3 separate regions of the Homo sapiens genome follow, and regions 1 and 2 are each linked to region 3. Evidence: fine-mapped expression QTL. A gene starts in region 3. Each other region holds a variant in brackets. All regions are shown on one strand. Distances are between the middles of the regions.

What was found. PIP is the estimated chance that this variant, and not a neighbour inherited with it, causes the effect.
Region 1: its variant is fine-mapped to the expression of SMPDL3A in whole blood (INTERVAL, PIP above 0.99). The same link has a PIP of 0.9 or more in blood mononuclear cells.
Region 2: its variant is fine-mapped to the expression of SMPDL3A in monocytes after LPS (Fairfax 2014, PIP 0.95). The same link has a PIP of 0.9 or more in transverse colon.

Annotation. Positions count from the first base shown.
Region 1 is chr6:122,708,857-122,711,623 of GRCh38, reverse strand. The region is part of intron 3 of PKIB (cAMP-dependent protein kinase inhibitor beta); the gene reads right to left. Among named protein-coding and RNA genes, the nearest start is that of FABP7, 69 kb to the left of the region's middle. The variant C/T (reference allele first, on the strand shown) is at 1,381.
Region 2 is chr6:122,808,130-122,810,896 of GRCh38, reverse strand. It overlaps SMPDL3A (sphingomyelin phosphodiesterase acid like 3A), which reads right to left. Exons shown (of 8, transcript NM_006714.5): 8 at 1,177-1,806. The coding sequence ends at 1,489. Among named protein-coding and RNA genes, the nearest start is that of SMPDL3A, 20 kb to the right of the region's middle. The variant G/A (reference allele first, on the strand shown) is at 1,606.
Region 3 is chr6:122,787,922-122,790,688 of GRCh38, reverse strand. SMPDL3A (sphingomyelin phosphodiesterase acid like 3A) reads right to left here and starts at 1,431. Exons shown (of 8, transcript NM_006714.5): 1 at 1,231-1,431. The coding sequence starts at 1,342. RefSeq lists silencers at 1-5, 1,111-1,405 and enhancers at 620-1,119, 1,120-1,621.

The sequences.
Region 1 (2,767 bases), 79 kb after region 3:
TGTTTGGGGGAGTCAGATTTAACTGGTCATCTTATTCTTTTTAGTTTCATACTAGAAAGACTTATTCAACATGTATCCTCCATAAAGGTTTGCAGGGAGTTAGTTGGGCTTCTCCCAACCACTTGCAGATTCCCAAAAGGACTAATAAATTTCTCACATGATTGCAGGATATTACATTTGAAAAGATGATATAGTCCAGACTTCCAGATCCAGACACTTAAGTGATGCATCAATATAACATAGCTTAATTTGTGTCAAAGTCTTTCCTAAGTTTAGGCGGTACTCTTTCTTCCATTACCATGATTCCTCCTGCTGCTTTCCGTAACAAAAAACAAAAACAAACCCAGCTATCTACAGGGATAAAAATAAAAAAGAAAATTCACTGTATATGAAAAAGTCTTTCTAAAAATTAAACAGGTTTCCTTTTTAATACATTAGCTTGAGTGGGGTGTGTGTGTCCCTGTGTGGTGTGTGTGTTTGTGTGTGTGTGCTATGTATATTGGGTGTTATCCAGAATACAGTGATATTTTCACTTCTCCTTTAGATGAATATAAGTGGTTATAACCATAGCAAAGCATCCCTACTGTCTACATTTTATATAGTTTAGCTTTTATTTCTAGCTTCAGAGTATTCAGAATTGAGAGGATTTAGCACGGATTTGAAGAAACCCTTCTCATTCTTTTTTTCCCACCTTACCTCAAACCCTATTTATACTCCTTCACTTTCATTTGTTTCACATTATTCTTTCTAACCAGTGACTCAAATATTGTTGGTTCTTATTTTATTGAGGTACTGGAGCCTGCTTAAAGAAGTTAGGGTTCAATTCAAAAAGCATTTATGTAACACCAACTCTGCAAAGCCCCACGCTAGATACTGTGGAATTTGGCACAGTAAGTAAGGTCTTCCCATGCCTTAACTGGCAGTCTGTGAAGGCTGCGTGCTAGCACCTTTACCACGTGAGCAGTGGAGGCAGCGCTTAATTCCAGGATAGAAAATGAGGCCAGGCTTCACAGGGAACACAGCATTTAATGGAACCCCAGAAAATAAGTAAGCAAATTTCAGAGAAGGGCTGCCCTCAGACCACCCATTTCTCATTTAGTTGCTTTTCCAACTACTATTGTACACAAAGTATTCTTAGATTTCAAAGGGGGCACAAATACACTCCAAGTACACAAAATCCCCAGCACTGAATTTGCCCTAGTGGGAAAATAATGTGATTTTGAAGTTCTTGTGTACAATGTGATTTTGAAGTTCTTGTGGTCTGCTTGTACTCTTCCCTACAAAGAGGGAACACGGCCGTCTGTGTTGGGGGTTTACATGCAAGGCCTAAAAAGTCAGTTCCCTTTTCAATGAGATATATGGTTTTAAAATGTCAAATGG[C/T]GGTTTATGACATCAGTAGGAAGAAGAGAAGGGGAAGTTAATTCTTACCAATGTGGTCACAATAGAAATGGCTTCATATCCCTCTGCCTAGTAGAGAGACTGGAACATATCTGCTTAATACAATCAATAAATCAATGTTGAATTAATAGCTGATACCTATCGATTATGAGCTGAAAATGAAGGTCCTTTACATTATTAATATTCATAATAAAGATCAAAAGTAAATAAATAATAAGACTGAAAGTTCAGTTATTCAGTATTAAAATAGATTTTGTTTTGTTAACATCAAAATAGATAGGAGTCAGGCTGTAGACTAATGGCAAATACAATGGTTTTTAGATGTGGGTAGTAAACCTGGATTGGTAGAGCCAGAGCAGTAGTTGCTGCAAAAACTCATACAGTACGACCCTCATCTAGGACATCTGATGGTTATACACATGGACACTTTAAATTTTAAACTTTCATTTCAGAAAGCATTTATAATTAATATATACTTATTTATCTTTCAAAGGGAAAATGCAGTGTGATACCAAATAATAGAACTATTTTTACTAACACACCAAAATTTATAGATGGAAATGAGTATCATCTATCAAAGCAATTACTTTAAGTAGCCACATATTTATTCCACTTCTGAAACTGTTTTTGTGACTCCATCATTGCAACTCATTTTATACTCATACATCAAATAGTGGTAACATGTTCTATTTAAAATATAACGTATTTTATAGTAAACTGTTTTTAATTAAAAAAAAAAACTCCCACTTGATCCCATCTCTTTGTACTAAGAATGACTTCAGCTACTTTTCAAAACCTCCTTAGGTAATTTAGATTTGCACATATTCAAAATAAAACTATTTTAAATGATGATTTGAAAGCAGAGCTTTGGGCACTACTTAACTGCATTAACACACTCTCAAAGTGACTGCCCTTAGTCCTCTTGTTTGTTACACGGTCTATATGGAGCAATGGGAAGTTTGGTCGCCTAAAAGTGAACACTTCTGAAGTTGAATCCTGGACTTTCAACTTCTAGAAAGACATCTAACTTCTTTGTTGATTAGCATTCTACATTTTTAAAAAGTAGGATTTATATTATCTATTTTACTACCCTGGACTCAAATGAACTAATGTTATAAATGTGCTTGGTTAACAACTACACAAATGGAATTTATTTAGATATCAGTCATATAAATTTATAGGCACTATGACAGAGTATCATTATGAATATCAATTATTCTTTTAAGCAACAGTGTTGACGTGGCTCTAGAGACAGCCTCTGATGTTGGACTGTAGGCAGAAAGAGATTAACGCAGCTGGGCGTGATGGCTCATGCCTGTAATCTCAGGGTTTTGGGAGGCTGAGGCAGGCAGATCACCTGAGGTCAGGA
Region 2 (2,767 bases), 20 kb before region 3:
ATCAAAAAGTCATTTTAATACATGAAGTCAAGCCAGTCACAAGGATGATGAGTTCCATTCTCCTCAATCTAAGGTTGCTCATTTTATGTCTTGACAAAGACTCTCTCTTTTGACCAAAACTTTAGTCAGGCTCCTCCAATTCCTCTGCTTGACTAGGCCAACATTGGGCTTCCTTTGTTCTTGCAGGATCCAGTTTGAGCAAGAATCCTGTTAAGTTGGCTTAGGGAGAATGCCCCACCCTTGGTATCTGACCGCCCTTGATATCCTATCACACTGGCCTGCCTTCGGCAATAATCCTATCAAGTTGGTATAGCCAGAAACGTCTTACCTTTGATGTTTTTCCTCCTGGTAATAGCCAGAAACCTCTTACCTTTGATGTTTTTCCTCCTGGTAATTTTCCATTCACTGATCCCCACTCTGCTCCTTGGTTATAAATCCCCACTCAGCCTTGTTGAAGTCAGAACTGAGTCCACTCTCTCTCCCTCACTGCAGGATTCCATTGCAGTGGTCCCTATACCTACCACTATGGCCTACCTTGGATAACATCTGCCTTAACATCTTTAACAAGTGTCATGATGAGCTTTTTTTCTTTAACAGTCTTCTCCACTATGCCAGTGTTGGGATATACAATCTTCTCTTCCTTTAAATCCCCCAGTCCCTCCCACTCTCCCTTCCATTTCTACTTTAATTCTCCTACTTAACCTGAAAGCAGAAAACAGCTTGAGCCATTGGAGTCCTAAAAACAATCCCATTAAATAAAAGGCTCATTTTTATCCTATCCTGGAATACTGTGACAAAGAAAATGCCACCACTGTAATCTAGGACGTTTCTTTGAAAAATATTCACAGCTTTCAATTCATTTCAACAATTATTTACTAGGTGCCAGGCACTGGACTAGGACCCAGGCCTTGTGCTAGTACTGCAGATACAATAAGTATGTGTGACATTCTCATCCTTAAAAGTTAGCAATGCCAAAGACTCAGAATGAAGAAAGCTAGGCAATACATGCCCTGTGATGTTTCAGCATGCTCCTAATGACCATGGTATTTTCCCAAGAGTAGATAGTGCATGTAAACAGTGGTAACATCTGTTTACATATGAGAGGTAAACAATTTGGACCTCAGTTAATACACAGATTTTAACTAAAAATTATCATGTTAAGAAAACTTCATCATATTTAGAGATAAAGAATTCGCTTTATTGTATAAATGACAATTTCAACAAGGGTACAAATTAGATATAATTATATAAACTGAATATTTACATCCAATTTACATCCATCATTCTATTAATGAGCACTTTAAATATATAATACAATTCAGAATGATAAAGATATCTACATTAAGGCATCAAAAAGAAAAAAAAAAAGAAAGCAAAGACAGGAAGTCTACTTGCCCACTCAGTAATTAACAAAGATTTATGTAAAATTCCCACAAATTGATCTCAGAATCAGAATCAGCATTTTCTATTAGCAAAAACTGTGAAATACTAGTAATTGTGCTTTATATAAAGCTGTTTGAGGCAATCTGCATAGGAAATATTATCAAGATTCATAATTGCACAAATCTGAAAGGCCTTACATGTCTTATCACATGTTACACTGCT[G/A]TCATAACTCACAAAGAAGTAATTGTAGTATTTTATAAACTGCTTACTGTCTAGGATTGTAAATTGTTTAGCTAATCCATATAAACTTTCCGGCTGCAAATCTTCAATGTCGTAGGTCTGGGTCAGGATATACTCCAGCTTCCAGATGGACTCTCCCTTTAGATTCGCCTCTGTCAGATTCAAGTAATACTGCAACATATCCTGCAGTTAAGAACAGTAACAAAACCTGGTTCACTTTTTGGCACATAAGGCATTGTACAACAAGAAGCGTTCATGTTTAAATTTCTGTGACATTTTAGGCTTGGCGCTGTGGCTCACGCCTGTAATCCTAGCACTTTGAGAGGCTGAGGCAGGTGGGTTACCTGAGGTCAGGAGTTTGAGACCAGCCTGACCAACATGGTGAAACCCCATCTCTACCAAAAATACAAAAAAGAAAAAAAAAATTAGCTGGGCATAGTGGTGGGTGCCTGTAATCCCAGCTACTCAGGAGGCTGGGGCAGAAGAATCGCTTGAACCCGGGAGGCGGAGGTTGCGGTGAGCCGGGATTGCGAGATTGCGCCACTGCACTCCAGCCTGGGTGACAGAGCAAGACTTTGTCTCAATAAATAAATAAGAAAGAAGGAGAGGGAGGGAGGGGGGAGGAGGGGGGGAAGGAAGGAAGGAAGGAAGGAAGGAAGGAAGGGAGGGAGGGAGGGAGGAAGGGAGGCTCAATAAAAAACCTGTATCACTTTTTCAATTTTAAAAATGATGAAAGAACATAATAGCATGTAATCCAAACTATAAAGAGAGGTGAACAAAATAAAAAACCTTCAATTCACACATCCTCAGAGGTAACCATCACTAATGGTTGTGTGTATCAGTGGTGTGCTGAAGGCAGCTCGTACCAGCTCACAAAAGCCGACTGTCAAATTTTTAAGAATGTTGCTAGTCAATCTGTGGCACTTTGGTAGCTTGAAATTGTCCATGATGTGAGTATTTCTGTCATGGAAATTGGCAAACACTACCAATTAAGGCACATTTCCCCTCAGTGAATAGTTGTTAAACATTTGTCAGTACTCCATTGTATGCGTGGTGATCTAGGCTTTAGATCAAAACAAAGATAAATATTTGGAATGTGCATACTTATTTACATTTTTGGCTTTTTCAAAAAAATGGAGTCTTA
Region 3 (2,767 bases):
GGGGAAATTTCTTGTAATGACTGACATTTGCCACAGTTCGGAAACCAGATTTACAGTTTTTGCTTCAGACCTGACAGCTGAGTCGTGAGGACTTGGCCTTCAAAGAGAAGATATTTGCCCTAGAGCGCTCCCAAGTCCTGAGAAAGCACAGAGGGAGCGAAAGAGGTTTCAGCACTAGGTGCTGCTACCGAGTCTCAGGGACAACTCTCCCCTAAAAGAAAACAGAACCCCACTTCTCTAATTTTGTTTTTCCTCTTAACAGTGCAATTATTTTTAAAGGGAGTTGAGGAGGTGAGGGCACCTTGATTTTTGGAACTGGAGGCTCGGATGGCATTGTACAATCTCCCACCAAAATGTATCTATTCTGGACCAGTGAGTCTCAAACTTAGCCGAAAGGAATCATGCGGAGGGTGGGTTAAACAGCATACTGTGGAAGCCCAACGCCGGCGTTTCAGATTCAGTAGGTCTGGGATGGGCTGGAAATTTGCAATGCTAACAATTTTAAGTGCGGCGGCTGCTGCCACCGGTCCAGGGCACACTTAAGAGAATCACTACTGTAACGGGCACTGTGTTAAGTGCTGGGAGTGAATAAAATGGGTCCCGCCCGCAGGAAACCTAGTGGACATCCAGGTGAAATGAAGTCCCCGTGAGTTCCACGGTAGACTAAGGGGTGAGTCTACCCGAGGGTGCTTTCGCGCTCTGGCTGGGTGAGTGGCAGAAAAAGCCACTGATCTCGGTCGAGCAAGACAGAAGATAGTGTGAGTCACGCTGAAATTTACTTCCCTGAGCTGGTGGGGAAACTGCAGTCCCCCTCCATTCAGGACCGATTAGGGGCCTCTTGCTGTGCTGGACATCGGACTCCCAGCTTCCTCTTCCCTTGAGTCCCGCAGCTTTTCCTTCCTTCCCCAAGGAACAAAACAACTGAGATGCAGGATGTAAACAAAAGCCAGGCTGGCGAAATCCGGCCGACGCGCCCTTGGAGCGCCCCCACCGGCGAGGGCATTTCCCCCGCCCAGCCCCGGCCTCCCGGCTGGACGCCCTAACGCTGTAGTCCCTTGGTCGCCCTCCCCGCGCCCACCAGCCGTGGTCAACGCCGGACGCGTCAGGGGCCCCGCTAGCCCGAGCCTCTGCCGGGGGCAGCTGCCCCCACGCACTTTCTCCTGCTGTGCGCAGGCGCCGCCGCTCCGCGCTCTTTGCCGGCTGGGAAGAGAAGGGTCGCGGACAACTCACCTATCGCCGGAGGAGGATTCCTGCCGCCTGCGGGCGCCACGGGCAGCCCGAGGCCGGAGCGGCAGTGCCAGGCAGTCAGCAGGCAGCAGACGAGTGCGCGCACCAGCGCCATGGAGGGCCGCGGGGCTGACCTGGAGGTTCGGGCTGTCCCGCAGCTCCACTCGGACCGTCAGGCCTGAGGGTGAGGCGGAGACAGAAGACGGCTGCGGGTGTAGACGTCCGACTGATCACGTGCAAAGGCAGATTCCGCAGCGAGTCAGTTCGCCTGACCTTCAGCTGCTGTTTAGCGATGATCTGTTCTCGTATTTCTTAGCGTCAGTGTTTGGCCTAGGAAGGAATGTACTTGTAGAAGCTCAAATTCCGACTCGTGTATCAGTGGTGCAGTTGATGTCAAACACTGACATACTGGTGCTTGGGGATAGAGAAAGACATTCAATTTAGTAAAAGCCAGAAGGAGGGAGAACAAGATCTCTCAAATCCGTGTGTAAAAAGGAAAAAGCAGGGAGTTTTTATTCTGCTAGAGAATAAGAGAGGGGGATTTTCAAAGAATCCAGGGGAAAAGTCTGTTTCTTCAGTCTCAGATAACACCTTTGAGCAATTAGACGTCCAGGCATCCGCAGCTGGTTGCAAAGCCCTTGGAGGTATTCATCCCTTCTGCAAACATTTTTGTGACCCTGAAGTTAACCTCTTTGTTCTTGACGAGGAAGCAGTACCTCAGCAGTTTATAATTATATTGTGGAAACAAGGAGAATATTGGGCAAAAAGCGAGTGGTTAAAATGTGCAAGCAAGCAGGAGCCTGATCAGAATTTTCATTATTTCAGTCACTAAAAAATGCTGGGGTGCTGAAATCTCAACGATCCCGGTTCCATTCTTGGGCCAACCTACCCCAGCTTTAATGGGTAGGGCTCCTCAGTAGAGGTGATGCAGAGAGCCCTGAAGTATCATGATTTGAAGGAAATCAGCAAAAGTTATGGATACTGCAGTGGATCTCGAATTGAAGTCTCTGAACTGGGAACATTAGCACCACCTGGGAACTCTAGTTAGAAATGCAAATTCCCAGGCACCACCCTAGACCTGTTGAGTCAGAAACCTGCTGGAGCCCAGCAGTTTGTGTTTTCACAAGCATTTCAGGTCATGTTAAAGTGATTGTGATGTTTGAAAACCAATGCTCAAAGATACGACGTTTTGTTTTTTGTTTTTTTTAAACTGCCGGGAAGAGAAGGGTCTTAGAATTAGAACATGTTCTGAAATCATGCTTTATGCATTCCAGAGATGCATGGAAATCATAAGTAGAGGTGGTTGATTTGATGCTTCCACGGAACTTTTTTGAATATACTTCTGGCAAAGAAGTAAGTCTATACAAAGAAGTAAGCAAAGATAAGTCTGGCAAAGAAGTAAGTCTATACAAAGAAGTAAGCAAAGATAAGTCTGGCAAAGAAGCCAGAATCCCGAAACTGTGCTGGATCCTGTATTCTGTGTTCCTTCTCTCACCGTTTATGAGGATGCTGATCTCTTGGAGATGACAAGCTAATAATT